4 linked regions of the Homo sapiens genome follow. The protein of the gene in region 1 purifies or fractionates together with the protein of each later gene. This does not show direct contact. Each region holds a gene or a part of one and is shown on either strand. Other genes may lie near its edges. The genes, in order: PER3, ANKRD36, AVL9 and EMB.

Region 1 (3,572 bases):
TTGTATTTTTAGTAGAAACGCCGTTTCACCATGTTGGCCAGGATGTTCTCGACCCCTTGACCTTGTGATCCGCCCGCCTCCGCCTCTGCCTCTCAAAGTGCTAGGATTACAGGTGTGAGCCACTGTGCCCAGCCTCCTATTGCATTATTATCTAGTTTTCTCATGAGTATGTCTCTTCTCAATCAAAATACGAACTCCTTGTGGCAATAACCAAGTCTTATTTTTTGTATCTCGCAACAGAAGTGAGCTGAATACACAAGAATCAAACCAACTGCAAAATAAACTCAGAACATAATCCACTGTTGCTGGCTTCCACGAGCCACTATACTTACCGGATCCTGCAGAAAAAAGGTTTCACCGGAGCACATTCATACCGTGCAGCTGCTAGAAAGAAAGATGCCTGGTCAGTCACTCCCTCTTATCCAGGTCTTTCTCAGTGAAACAATGTTGCACCATTATCAAACAACAAACTATTTTTTAAAAGAGAGAGAGGTCTCCTTGATTAAAATAGAACCCCCTTCCTTCATTTTGAGATCCAGTCACAATACTAGAATTGGGAAATACTAGTATTGGTTTTGGTACTGGAACCGTGAACCTCAGGTATAACAGTGAGAATCGGCTTTATCTCTTCCCCTTACTACTTTTCATAGTTCCCAAACTGCCCATGTTCATCATCTCAAAGGTCAATGTAATGATCCTTGGACACAATTATTCTGGTGGTAATATTCCATCCCATTGTAATAGTCTGGACCTTTCTAAAAAGTTGGGAATTCAGACTATTTTCAGCTTCTTAGCTATACGATATATAATTTTCTTTTTTTCTTTAAGCTCTTTCTTTGGATAAATTTCAAAAAGTTGTGTTCCTAGGTTAAATGATAGAATCGTTTTATGACTTTATTGTGTATGGATAAACCTCCAGAAAACTGTACCAATCTTCAGAGTTTTATTAATGTTTTCTCACAACCCTCATGCCAATGATTTGCTAGCAATTCCATTGATTTCTGCACCCATTTTATTGATTTATGAGGTGATAATTCAGAAATGTCTAAATTTGCCTTAGGAGATGAGGGGACTGAAATTTCTGCCCAGTGTTTGTTGACTATATGTATTTCCTCTGATTAGAGCTTCCTGAATATCTTTTGGGCATTTGTTCACTGAAACAAGAAGTCTTCAGTTATAGGAACCATGGAAAACTGTGAGATGTTCAAAAAATATACACTGAAGGTAGCATAAACAGTGAAAATCCAAAACAACCAAAATATTGAATAAGCAGCCCAGGTCTTGATACTTCTAAGAGACGATCACAGAAGAGTCAGAAAGCATTAATAAAGCACTGAAGATTGGTATAATCTTCTACAGAAAACGGCCTCTACTGTGAGGTCAGTTTGCTTATACCATTTATTCATCACACCAGACACATGAACTCCAACTGCACTCACTAGAAGTCCTGGACCACTGAAAGCTAGACTACGTGATCTAAGACAGCAGACGTGCACCCACAATGCATTTCCATTCCTAGGCTGTAAATATGTGATGCTTGTTTCTAAAAGCGTACTCTGAAGAAGTAATGGTCAGATCCTTCTAAGAGGTTTGTACAAGACATGTTAAATAGAAACATATTCTAATACAGGACCAGAGGTTGACAACAGCTGAGTGGATTGCTTCCTAAGTCCTCTTGATGTTCTATGTGCTCAAAGTAAGGAATCGAAGGGGGTAACGCAGGCATAGCCTATAAAGGGGGTGGCATTAACCAACTGCTCTCAGTATCAATCCTTGAGATTCATAAGGCAAAAGTACAATATAAAGAGTAAACTAGAATTATATCGTGCCTTATGGCATAAGTGAATTTTGAGATCCAAAAGAATTATTTCAGGGCATATTAAGATTTTACATAAAAGGTGATATGGTTTGGCTGTGTCCCCACCCAAATCTCATCTTGAATTGTAGTTCCCATAATCCCCACATGTCAAGGGAGGGACCTGGTGGGAGGTAACTGAATCATGGGGGTGGTTGCCGTCATCCCGTTCTCGTGATAGTGAGTTCTCATGAGAGCTCATGGTTTTATAAGAGGCTTTTCCCCCTTTTGCTTGGCGCTTCTCCTTGCTGTTGCCACGTGAAGGACATGTCCCCGTCTGCCATGATTGTTAAGTTTCCTGAGGCCTCCCCAGCCATGCTGAACTGAGTCAATTAAAACTCTTTCCTTTAGAAATTACCCAGTCTTGGGTATGTCTTTATTAGCAGCATGAGAATGGACTAATACAGTAAACTTGTACTGCAAAGAGTGGGGTGCTGCCATAGATACCCAAAAATGTGGAAGTGACTTTGGAACTGGGTAACAGGCAGACACTGGAACAGTTTGGAGGGCTTAGAAGAAGACAAGAAAATGTGGGAAAGTCTGGAACTTCCTAGAGACTTGTTGAATGGCTTTGACCAAAATGCTGATAGTGATATGGACAATGAAGTGCAGGCTGAGGTGGTCTCAGAGAGAGATGAGGAACTTGTTGGGACTGGAGTAAAGGACACTTCTGCTATGCAAAGAGACTGGCAACTTTTGCTCCTGGCCTAGAGATCTGTGGAACTTTGAACTTGAGAGAGATGATTTAGGTATCTGACGGAAGAAATTTCTAAACAGCAAAGCATTAAAGAGGAAGCAGAGCATAACAACTTGGAAAATTTGTAGCCTGAAGATGCAATGGAAAAGAAAAACCCATTTTCTGGGGAGAAATTCAAGCCTGCTACAGAAATTTGCAGAAGTAACAAGAAGCCAAATGTTAATCACCAAGACAATGGGGAAAATGTCTTCAGGGCATGTCAGAGACTTCACAGCAACCCCTCCCATCACAGGCTGAGGCCTACGAGAGAAAAAATGGTTTTCTGGGCCTGTCCAGGCCCCCACTGCTCTGTGCAGCCTTGGGACATGATGCCCTCCATTCCAGCTGCTTCACCTCCAGCCATGGCTAAAAGGGACCAAGGTACAGCTCAGGCCATAGCTTCAGAGGGTGCAAGCCCTATTCCTTGGCAGCTTCCATATGGTGTTGGTCCTGCAGGTGTGCAGAAGACAAGAACTGAGGTTTGGAAACCTCTGCCTAGATTTCAGAGGATGTACGGAAATGCCTGGATGTCCAGGCAGAAGTTTGCTACAGGGGCGGAGCCCTCATAGAGAACCTCTGCTAAGAGAGATGTGTAAGGGAAATTTGGGTTCGGAGCCCACACAGTCTTCACTGGGGCACTGCCTAGTGGAGCTGTGAGAAGAGGGCCACCATCCTCCAGACCTAAGAATGGTAGATCCACCAAAAGCTTGCACTGTGAGCCCAGAAAAGCCACAGACACTCAATGCCAGCCCATGAAACCAGCCATAAGGGAGGCTGTACCCTGCAAAGCCACAAGGGCAGAGCTGCCCAAGGCTGTAGGAGCCCACCTCTTGCACCAGCATGACCTGGATGTGAGACATGGAGTCAAAGGAGATTATTTTGGAGCTTTAATATTTAATTATTGCTTCAGTGGATTTCAGACTTGCAAGGGGCCTGTAGCCCCTTTGTTTTGGCCAATTTCTCCCATTTGAAATGGGTGTA
Region 2 (3,572 bases), on another chromosome or scaffold:
TTGATGAAAGGTTTATCTGTAGTGTGCCATGCTGTTGGATAGCATTTTACCTCACAGTAGAACACCTTTCAAAATGAGAGTCGATCCTATCTAATGCTGCCACCGCTTTATCAACTCAGTTTGTATAATAAGATAGGTGTTTTTTTGTCATTTCAACAGTGTTTACAGTATCTTCACGAGGAATAGATTCCATCTCAGATGGATGGGCTATAAGAAACAACTTTTAGTACATTCAAGTTTGATCATGAAACTGCAGAAATTCAGTCACAGGCTCAGGCTCCAGTTTTACTCTTAGTTCTCTCCCTAGTTCCATCACACTCACAGTTACTTCCTCCACTGAAGTCTTGAAACCCTGCAAGCTATCTATGAGGGCTGAAATCAATTTCTTCCAAACTTCATATTTTGACCTCCTCCAAGGAATCACAAATATCTTTAATTTCATCTAGAATAGTGATTGCTTTCTAAAAAAATCCAGATGATTTTTAATTTGCCTTGTGCAGATACACAGAAGAATCATTGTCTATGGCAGGTATAGGCTTACAAAATGTATTCTTAAATAATAAAATGTCCTTGATCCATGGGCTTCAGAATGAATGCTGTGTTAGCAGGCATGAAAACAACATTAATCTATTTGTACAACTCCATCAGAGCTCTTGGGTTATGAGTGCATTGTCAATGAGCAGTAATATTTTAAAAGATATATATATATATATATATATATATATATATACACACATATATACATACACACACATACACATATACACACACACAAACACACACACACACACACACGTTTTCTGGACAATAGGTCTCAACAGTGTGCTTAAGATATTTGGTAAACCATACTGTAAACGATGTGTTTTCATCCAGGCTTTGTTGTTTCATTTATAGAGTATAGGTAGCATAGGTTTAGAAGAACTTAAAAATGTAGCAGAATGGTAAATGAGTACTGCCTTTAATGTTTTAATGTAACCAGCTGCATTAGCCAGTACATAAAGAGTCAGCCTGTCCTCTGAAGATTAGAAGCCAGGCATTGACTTCTCCTCTATAGCTGTGAAAGTTTTAGGTATCCTCTTCTTCCAGTATAATGCTGTTTTGTCTACATTGAAAATCTGTTATTTAGCATAACTGCCCTCATCAATGATCTTAGCTAGATCTTCTGGATAACTTGCTGCAGCTTCTCTATCAGCACTGGCTGCTTTACCTTGCACTTTTATGTTATGAAGATTCTTTTCTTAAACCTCATGAACCAACCTCTGCTAGCTTTAAACTTGTCTTCTGCAGCCTCCTCACCTGTGTCAGACTTCATAGAATTAAAGAATGTTAGGGCTTAGCTCTGGATTCAGCTTTGGCTTAGCGAAATGTTGTGGCTCATTTGATTTTCTATCCAGACCACTAAAACTGTCTTCACATCAGCAATAATACCATTGTACTTATCATTTGTGCATTCACTGGAGTAGTCTGTTTAATTTCCTTTAAGAACTTTTTTTTTTTTGCATTCACAGCTTAGTTTACTGTTTGATGTAAGTTGCCTAGCTTTCAGCCTATCTGAGCTTTCAACATGCTTTTCTCACCCTATTAATCATTTCTAGCTTTGTATTTAAATACTGGCATCATGGGGGCTAATGTGGCTTACAAAGTACAATTCATCTGGCAGATGGAACCATAGTTTGACACTACCAGTCTTATGTCGGGTTCAACCCAGTAATAAATCCAAGCCTACCCATTCTTCCCGGAAGGAGCTTGATTATGCATTGAATCAAGCTCCCAGAAGGAGCTTGATTATGCATTGAAATTCCACAACCTCCGTGGTTAGTGCCCAAGGAACTGTTTTCTTAAGAACTCTGCTCTGTGAGTCGACAGGATTTTGTATTTTTGAATGTATTTAGACCATAGAAAACAAAGAAGTAAGCATACAATGGGCCCACATTCAGAAGCTATCTCCTCAGGATCAGAGGCTGCATCCAGAGTGTGCATAGGTGTTTGTCACAGATCCTCTACCAAGCTTAATGGAGAGAGAGTGGGAGATAAATGTCCATACTAATCTTCATCATGTAGCTAGAAAGAACTGAAACACTCCTCCAGCCTTCTAACTTTCTAGCTACATCTGGATTGTCTGGCTCCTACCTTAACCAATTTCTGGTTACTGACAAGGCGTGGCACATCCTAAGTTCCAGGGAGCCACCAAAAACAGTCAATACTAGAGCACACAAGGACTTGAGAGGTACCTGAAGATCTCTGGCTGGAAAGTTTGGTGAGATCCTTTTCCTACATGAGGCCAGTCTTATCAAATGCACGGGAACCAACAGAGAGAGTCGAGGAAAAATGAAGAAACAGGGAAATATATTCAAAGCAAGAAAACAAGATAAATCTCCAGCACCTGAGTGAAGTGCAGATATGTAATTTATCTGACAGAGATTTCCAAATAATGGTCATAACAATAATCACTGAGGTCAAGATAGCTTTGCAAGAACAAGTTGAGAACTTCAAGAAAAGGAAAAACGTTATACAATAATGTCAAACAAATCATAGATCTAAAGTGTACTGTAACTGAACTGAAAAAATTTAATAGAGGTGTCCATTAATAGAATCTATCAGTGAACTTTGAGACTGGTCACTGGAAATTATCTAACCTGAGGATCAGAAAAAAAGATAATGCAAACGGAGTGAAGACAACTTTAGAGAGTTATGGGACACCATCAAGCAGGACCACTCACACATTATTGGCATGCCTGAAGGAGAAGTGAGGAAGAAAGGAACGGAAAAGTGTTTAAAGGAATAATGACAGAGAATTTATCAAGCATGGGGAAGAAAACAGAAAGCCTGATCCAGAAAGCCCAAAGGAAACCAAATAAGGTGAATCCAGGGACTCACAACAAGATACACTATAATCAAATTGTCCAAAGTTAAAGACAAAAAGAGAGTGATATTGTTTGCAAATTTGTACCCTCCAAATATTGTGTCAAGATTTGATCCCCAATGTTGGAGGTGGGACCTAGTGGGAGGTGTTTGGGTCATGGTGGTTGATCTCTCCTGGATAGCTTCTTGCCCTTTTTTCACTAATGAGTGAGTTCTCACTGCATTACACGAAAGGTGGTTGTTTAAAACAGTGTGGCACCTCTCCCGTCTCTTCTACCTCTCTAGCCATGTGTGTCATACCCGTTGTCTCTTCACCTTTAGCCACAAGTAAAAGCCTTCTGGGTCCCTGACCAGAAGCTGTGCAGATGCCACTGCCATTCTTCTTCTACAGCCTGCAAAACTGTGAGCCAAACAAACCTCTGTTCCTTATAAATTACCTAGTCTCAGCTAATTTTTTATAGCAACACAAAAATTTGTGTTTTTCCGTGTTGCTCTTTTCTGTGTTATTCTGTGTTGCTAACACAGAAATTAGTACCAAGGAGTGGGGTTTTGCTATAAAAATACCTGATAATGCAGAATTTGCTTTGGAACTGGGTAATAGGCAAAGAAGTCAGGAAGATGAGGAAACTTGTGGAACTTAATTAGACCTTGGTTAAGTGGTTGACCAAAATGATAATAGGAATATGAACAGTGAAGGCCATGCTGTTGAG
Region 3 (3,572 bases), on another chromosome or scaffold:
TGGGCGGGTCACAAGGTCAAGACATCGAGACCATCCTGGCTAACATGGTGAAATCCCATCTCTACTAAAAATACAAAAATTAGCTGGACATGGTGGCAGGTGCCTGTAATCCCAGCTACGCGGGAGGCTGAGGCAGGAGAATCGCTTGAACCCGGGTGGCAGAGGTTGCAGGGAGCCGAGATCGTGCCACTGCACTCCAGCTTGGGCGATAGAGTGAAATTCTGTCTCAAAAAAAAAAGAAAAAAAAAAAATTCAGCCACACTGAGGTTTTTGTAGTTTCTGACAGAAAGTATGAAAACATGTTTCTTGGGTGAATGGTTATAATATAATGAAAGTCCAGGATTCAAAGATGTATTTATTATAATCCCAAATTTGAAGAAGAAAAAGTATATACATTTTCCAAGACAGGAGGATACAGATGGGAGGACCATAAAGCTGCTTCATCATTATTGGTTACATTCTAGTTCTGTAGTTGGTTGGTGGGTTCGTAGGAATTTCTTTTATTATTATACTTCAAAACTAACCTGTAAGTTACATGTATTTTTTAGTATATCAAATATTACATAATAAGATATTCTAAAGTATCTGGCCGGGCATGGTGGCTCACGCCTGTAATCCCAGCACTTTGGGAGGCCGAGGTGGGCAGGTCACAAGGTCAAGACATCGAGACCATCCTGGCTAACATGGTGAAATCCCATCTCTACTAAAAATACAAAAAATTAGCCGGGCGTGGTGGTGGGCGCCTGTAGTCCCAGCTACTCAGGAGGCTGAGGCAGGAGAATGGCATGAACCCAGGAGGCAGAGCTTGCAGGGAGCCAAGATTGTGCCATGGCACTCCAGCCTGGGCGACAGAGCAAGACTCCGTCTCAAAAAAAAAAAAAAAAGAATATTCTAAAGTATCTGCACGCAAAAGAAAAAGTATTTAAGGAATTATACTTGTTAAATGTGTTCATTTCTGCTAGTGAAATAAAGGTGATTTTTACATGTATTTCTATATTTTCCCAAATATTTGCAATCTAGGTGAGTAATTTTGTAATTTAAAATACTATATTTATGTGTGTATTTTCTAAAAACAGAAAATGAGCATTTTATAAATAGAAAGAAAACTTCAGTGTACAAACCTCTTTCTTAGACTCACCTTTTGAGAATGCCATTATTCATATTTTTTATTTCCAGCTCCACCTTCCCCGTAGTTACTCTGTAAAGTGTGGCATGGATGTCTGCGTGAATGCCCAGACTCTGACTTGTACCTGGATACCCTCTAGGTAGAAGAAGCTCTGATCCAGATCCATGATCCAGAACTCAGGAAGCTGCTTAACCCAACCACTGCAGACCTAAGGTTCGCAGACTACCTAGTGAGGCACGTGACTGAGAATCGGGATGACGTCTTCCTAGATGGCACGGGCTGGGAGGGAGGTGACGAATGGATCCGGGCCCAGTTTGCGGTCTACATTCATGCCCTGCTGGCTGCCACACTGCAATTAGGTAAGAAACCACACGGAGCCTACAGCTACCTGTTTTATTATAATTTTTCATTTTGTAACATTTATGAGATTTTGGATTGCACAATAAATACATATTCCTTATAGAAAAATTACCAGTTATTCCCTCATACAAAGATAGCCACTTTTAACGTCTTTAGTACTTTATAGCCTTGCAAATCTTTTCCTATGCATGTATTTTGGATTTTGGTTTTATGGTACTTTTGGTGGTCCTTTTACAAAAATGGATCCCTTTATACATGTTTTCTGAAACTATTACTTTATAATAGAAACAACACATACCAACATAACATGAACATATATCATCACTTTTACATGACTGCTTCATATTCATCAGTATTTGGCAGCTGTTTGTGAATACTGCCACATGTTTTTTAAGATGTATAAAGGGAGAAAGAATATAAAAAATAGAAATCATTGAAAATCGTGTTGTAAATGATTAAATCTTCAAATTTATAACCCATTCTAAGAAATATTATTATTCGTATTAAATGGTTAAAATGGAGCAGGTAAACATGGAGTTACTCCTGCATTAAAACTATCTCATTCTCCTTGGGAAAGAAATATATAAATAGTGAAAATGGAGCTCTGCAGTGAGCTTTTCACCTTGGACATTTGGCAGATATTTATTAGAGTTGTTAAAAATGTGTTGAGCTTGTGTTTTTGTTTCAGTTAACTAACCATTATTTTTTTAATTGTGATGAAATACACATAGCATAAAATTTACCATCTTTACCATTTTTAAATGTACAGTTCCACAGTGGCATTAGATACATTCATTGTTGTATCAGTAGATTTTTTTAATCAACACCACCACCACATGCTCCCAGGTTAGTTGTTTACAGTGCACATAGGAGTTTTAAAGTAGGTTTCGGGAGAGTTTTTCATTTGTAAAAGACAGCTGAGGAACAAGCCCTCGTTTGTTAATGAGATATTTTTAAATGTTTGCCACCACTAACAATGTAGCAGCTGAGACACCAAAATTAAATCCTTTAACCCCAAATCATTTGGTAATCTAGAAAGAAAACTTCAGTCTCCACTGCCATGTAGCTTAATTAATTTGCTTTTAAGCAAATTAATTAATTTGCTTTTTTAAAAATATTTGCCCAGGAGGCTGTAAGCACTGAATAATAGTAGCTCACTTTTTTTTTTGAACATTAAATATATGCAGGGACCAGTGTTCTGAGCACTTTACATCTAGTAATTCATTTCATCCTTACAGCAATCCTGAAGGTAGGGACCTTGTCATTGCCTTTTACAGAAGAGAAAATGAAGCTCACAGAGGTTCATAAGAGGCTTAGGTGGGATCTGATCCCAAACAGTTTGGCTTAGGCCCATACTCTTACAAGTAACAAGGTCAAAAGAGGAAATTCAGCCCAATGAACTGCTTGAGGAAGTGTTCTTAGAACAACTTCTTTATGCTGTGTATGGAACTGTGTATCTCATTCATTTCCTTTCCTAGCAACAAAAGGTACTTTGTATTTCACCTTCAAAGTAAACAACATGCAATTAATATATGAAGTAATAGCCATTTGTATCAGTTCTCCAAACCATTTCTAATCTTCCAAGCGGAGGAAACACATATGGATGCTTTCCCATGGTATTGATAAAGCTGAAAACTTTATCAGTTTTCAGTATATTCTTTTAAGACTTTTTTTGTTTTGTTTTGTTTTGTTTTTTGAGACAGAGTCTCGCTCTTGTTGCCCAGTCTGGAGTGCTGTGGCATGATGTTGGCTCACTGCAACCTCCATCTCCTGGTTTCAAGTGATTCTCTTACCTCAGCCTCCCGAGTAGCTGGGACTACAGGTACCCGCCACCACGCCTGGCTAATTTTTGTATTTCTGGCAGAGACAGGGTTTTGCCATGTCGGCCAGGCTGGTCTCGAACTCCTGACCTCCAGTGATCCGCCCTCCTCGACCTCCCAAAGTGCTGGGATTACAGGCATGAGCCACTGCACCTGGCCTTTTTTAAGTGTTTTTGACAGTGAAATGCTAGGAAATTCAAGAATGAAACACCAAATAAAGTCCAAAGGAGAGAACATCATGACTGAAAGAACCAATTTGTGTATTC
Region 4 (3,572 bases), on another chromosome or scaffold:
GGTGCCGTGCACTATTCCAATTAGGCGAGAGTGAAGAACACATTGAGCTTGTGGTGCTGAGCTATTTGGTGCCCCTCAAACCATTTCTTGTAATAGTGGCTGAGGTGATTCTTTTAGTGGCCACCATTCTGCTTTGTGAAAAGTACACACAAAAGAAAAAGAAGCACTCAGGTGGGATTTCTTTTTTTTGTTTTTTGTTTTTTTTAGAAAGTATTATCAGTTAATTATAAGTATCATTTACTTATGATATGGATTATGATTTGATACATTGCAATGACTTTAGGATTTTTGGGGAAAATCTTCATTTTCTTATTTGGAGCAGTATTTAGGTTTACAACAATGGTGACAGTGAGCTGGAAACATATACCCATGGTCTTCCTGTTTCAATTCCTGAAAAAACTTAGTATTAAAAATGCCTTTTTTCTTTCTCTTCCCCCACCACCCCCCTCTTTTTTTTTTTTTTTTTTTTTTTGGTGCTACTGGTACCTAAGTACCAATTAGGTGATATGTATTCTGGCACTGGAATATTAGAAAAATCTATGATAGCTTAATATAAAAAGTCTAAAAGAAACAATTTTTCTTTCACTTAGATTATCATTTAAAAAAATATTTTATTAACCATTCCAGAGTTCTCATTAAAGAGAGACCATCCTGTCATGTCCTATTTTTGCGGCCTGTGCCTGATGGGTTACAGGTTGATAAAGCAGTAATCCTCTAGAAAATTGACCTTACGTCCTGTATTCTTTCCTGATTTTATACTAAATTTTTAATGATTTAAATAATGACAAACTAAGCAGTCATGTTTTTGAAAATACCAGGCCACTAAACTATGTTTGATCAGAAATGCAGATAAGGTCTGTAGTGCAGATAAAGGAGGTGTAGGTGTTTAAGGTAGCATGTCTCTCCTTCATTCCAAACAGGAGAAACAGCATAGTACTTACTTACTTAGGAAGGAGGTTTAATTGAGCATATATGTTCCATAAAAGTGACAAACCAACTTCACAGTCAAATTCTTCTTTTGTTACACAGATGAGGGGAAAGAATTTGAGCAGATTGAACAGCTGTAAGTATTATTTTTTACAGATTAATTTTCACTTGGGTAAAATACAGGGAAACATAAAATTGAATGAAATGTTTGCAGTTAGGGGGAGAAAAGGCAGAGGAGTATTTTCTGTATATGTCCACGTGGTGGTGGAAAGTGGCTTTCCAAGTCTGCCTACCTGCGTGAGAATTCTTCTTCATCACTTACTACCTGCACTTCTCTGTACTTCAGCTTTCTTCTCTACAAAATGGATTTAATAATAGTACTCACCATATGAGGTTGTTGGATGGAATGAATATTATATATGTGTAAATGCATAGCATAGGTTATGGTGCACAGAAGGTGTGCAGTAACCATCAGGAAGTATTTAATATTATTATTTTTAAAGCAATAGTTCTCAAGCCTGGCAATTTTTGATCACTTAAGAGCCTCTTTAAAAAAATACAGTTGCTCAGACCTTGCTGAATCTCCTGGATCAGAACCTCTTGGGTTGGGGCTATGGCATCTGTTATTTCTTGAAAACATCTACAAATGGTTTTGATCCTCTGTCTGTTGAAAATCACTGGCCTAGAATTCTATTAGTTATTATTATTCAGAGAACACAAATTGTGCCACAGGTTCTCTTACACAGCCTTTGTTTAGAGTTAAGCATGAGGAGGTCTGGAAATAAAATCACCAGGGATGTAATTTAGTTTGGCAAAGATGGGAGTTCCGAATTCCTCGAAGCCAGAGAACTGAGTATGGAGGCCAGTGACAGAGGTGTCCAAGACTGGGATTAAAGCCTGAACAATAGAGCCAAGGGCTGGAGTCCAGGAAAACGAGGCTAGATTAAAGTTGCTGCAAGAAACCTGAGAAGTGGAAGGCCTGAGCAACTATAACTAACACAAAATGGCACTTAGAGTTTATCAGCCAACAGGAGCTCTATGGAGTGAGTGTTACAGGCATGGATAGCAGGAGTGGAGCAGACAGTTGTCATTTAGATGTTTGTAGACATTATTCAGATAATCATGTTGACTCCATTCACATAGGCTGCTAAAATAAACCAATATGATATGAGCTTCCAAGTTAAGGGCACAAAATAACTACATCAGAAATCCTATAACACCAGATAGAGAAAAGCAATGTTGTCTTAGAATCATAGACTCCCATAGTTGGAAGGGAATTGTATCTCTCCCAAGAGAATCCCTTCTCTTTCTGGAGAACATAGATATCTTATTTATGTTGATTTGAACTTTTAATCTTTCCTATTTCCACGTATTGGCGTTTTTCTTGTTCTTAGCATCATATAACAAACGTGACAGTCATTGACATATTTGAAAACAGAACCTTGCTCGGATTCCTCTATTCTCCGAGCTCTGCCTCCCACTGTCTCTAACCATTCTTCTGAGCTCACATTTGGAAGTTGCATTCTGATTTAAAACACACTCTGAAAGGATGGTACCAGAACAGTGTGGAATGGACCATCACTTCTGAACAATGTAAAATGGATTCAATATATAGTGTAAAAGATGAATTATTTTTCTGAAAATTGGATCAATGTACATCATTTTGCTCATCTTGTATAGCACCATAAGGATCACTGAAGGTGTTTAGTTTTTCTTCAGGTTATTTCACTATCTTTAGATTGTATACAAATATCAAGGGCACTTGAAATCATTCAGAACAATGAGCTTCTTGATGTCCCTCAAACCATTTCTTGCAATAGTTGCTGAGGTGTTTTCTTAGTGGCCATTATTCTGCTTTTGAAGAGTACACACAAAAGAAAAACAAGCACTCGTGGGATTTCTTTTTTTTTAGAAAATATTAATTATCAGTTAATTGTAAGTAACACTGTCTTATAATATGCATTATGATTTGATAATTGACGCCTGCCCCCAAGACCTTGAAGGGCAAGGTATTCATTATGCATACTGGTTATTTAGTTTCCGTCAATCTTTAGAATCTGAGGCCCACATTTGTAGTCCTGCTCTGATAAACTTTGGGTGGAAAAAGAACCATTTTTAACCTCTATTTCAGTGTAATAAGCATACAAATGTATAGCACCAATATCACACATGTTGGCTGACCTCCTAATTGGCTATTACCTTGCATGTTTCCAAAACCACACATAAGTTATGGTCTTTACGCCCAAGTCCTCACTCATGCTTGGGGAGAAGCAATTCTCCCTGTGCATAAAATCAACAAGCCTTTGTCACTATCATTTGTGGTAACAGCTCCTCTTCAAGCAATGCCATAAAATAAATTCAACATTGTAAGTAAAACATTTTTAGGAAGAAAGAATTCTGTCCGTATTGACATTTTACATTTTAACCTGATAGCCATATCAGTGATGTACTGACTTAATTTTATATAATATAAGCATTTAGTAATTTTCTTTTTTGTTTTCTGTGCAGGAAATCAGATGATAGCAATGGTATAGAAAATAATGTCCCCAGGCATAGAAAAAATGTAAGTTACTTCTGAATGATATTCCAAATAAAAGGTCAAATTCAATATACATAGGCTATCTATCAATCAGTTACTTTTTTTT

What was found.
Region 2: the proteins of PER3 (region 1) and ANKRD36 purify together in Homo sapiens (affinity purification with mass spectrometry, with the first as the bait; one large-scale study listed by BioGRID). This does not show direct contact.
Region 3: the proteins of PER3 (region 1) and AVL9 purify together in Homo sapiens (affinity purification with mass spectrometry; one large-scale study listed by BioGRID and IntAct). This does not show direct contact.
Region 4: the proteins of PER3 (region 1) and EMB purify together in Homo sapiens (affinity purification with mass spectrometry; one large-scale study listed by BioGRID and IntAct). This does not show direct contact.

The regions. Positions count from the first base shown.
Region 1 is NC_000001.11:7,790,769-7,794,340, reverse strand, and holds part of PER3 (period circadian protein homolog 3), read right to left. Parts: intron 385-3,572; coding exon 333-384; intron 1-332. UniProt on the Homo sapiens protein: Originally described as a core component of the circadian clock.
Region 2 is NC_000002.12:97,259,651-97,263,222, forward strand, and holds part of ANKRD36 (ankyrin repeat domain-containing protein 36A), read left to right. Parts: intron 1-3,572.
Region 3 is NC_000007.14:32,571,934-32,575,505, forward strand, and holds part of AVL9 (late secretory pathway protein AVL9 homolog), read left to right. Parts: intron 1-1,176; coding exon of another isoform or gene 1,177-1,265; coding exon 1,266-1,485; intron 1,486-3,572. UniProt on the Homo sapiens protein: Functions in cell migration.
Region 4 is NC_000005.10:50,399,777-50,403,348, reverse strand, and holds part of EMB (embigin precursor), read left to right. Parts: coding exon 1-171; intron 172-1,029; coding exon 1,030-1,063; intron 1,064-3,435; coding exon 3,436-3,490; intron 3,491-3,572. UniProt on the Homo sapiens protein: Plays a role in the outgrowth of motoneurons and in the formation of neuromuscular junctions.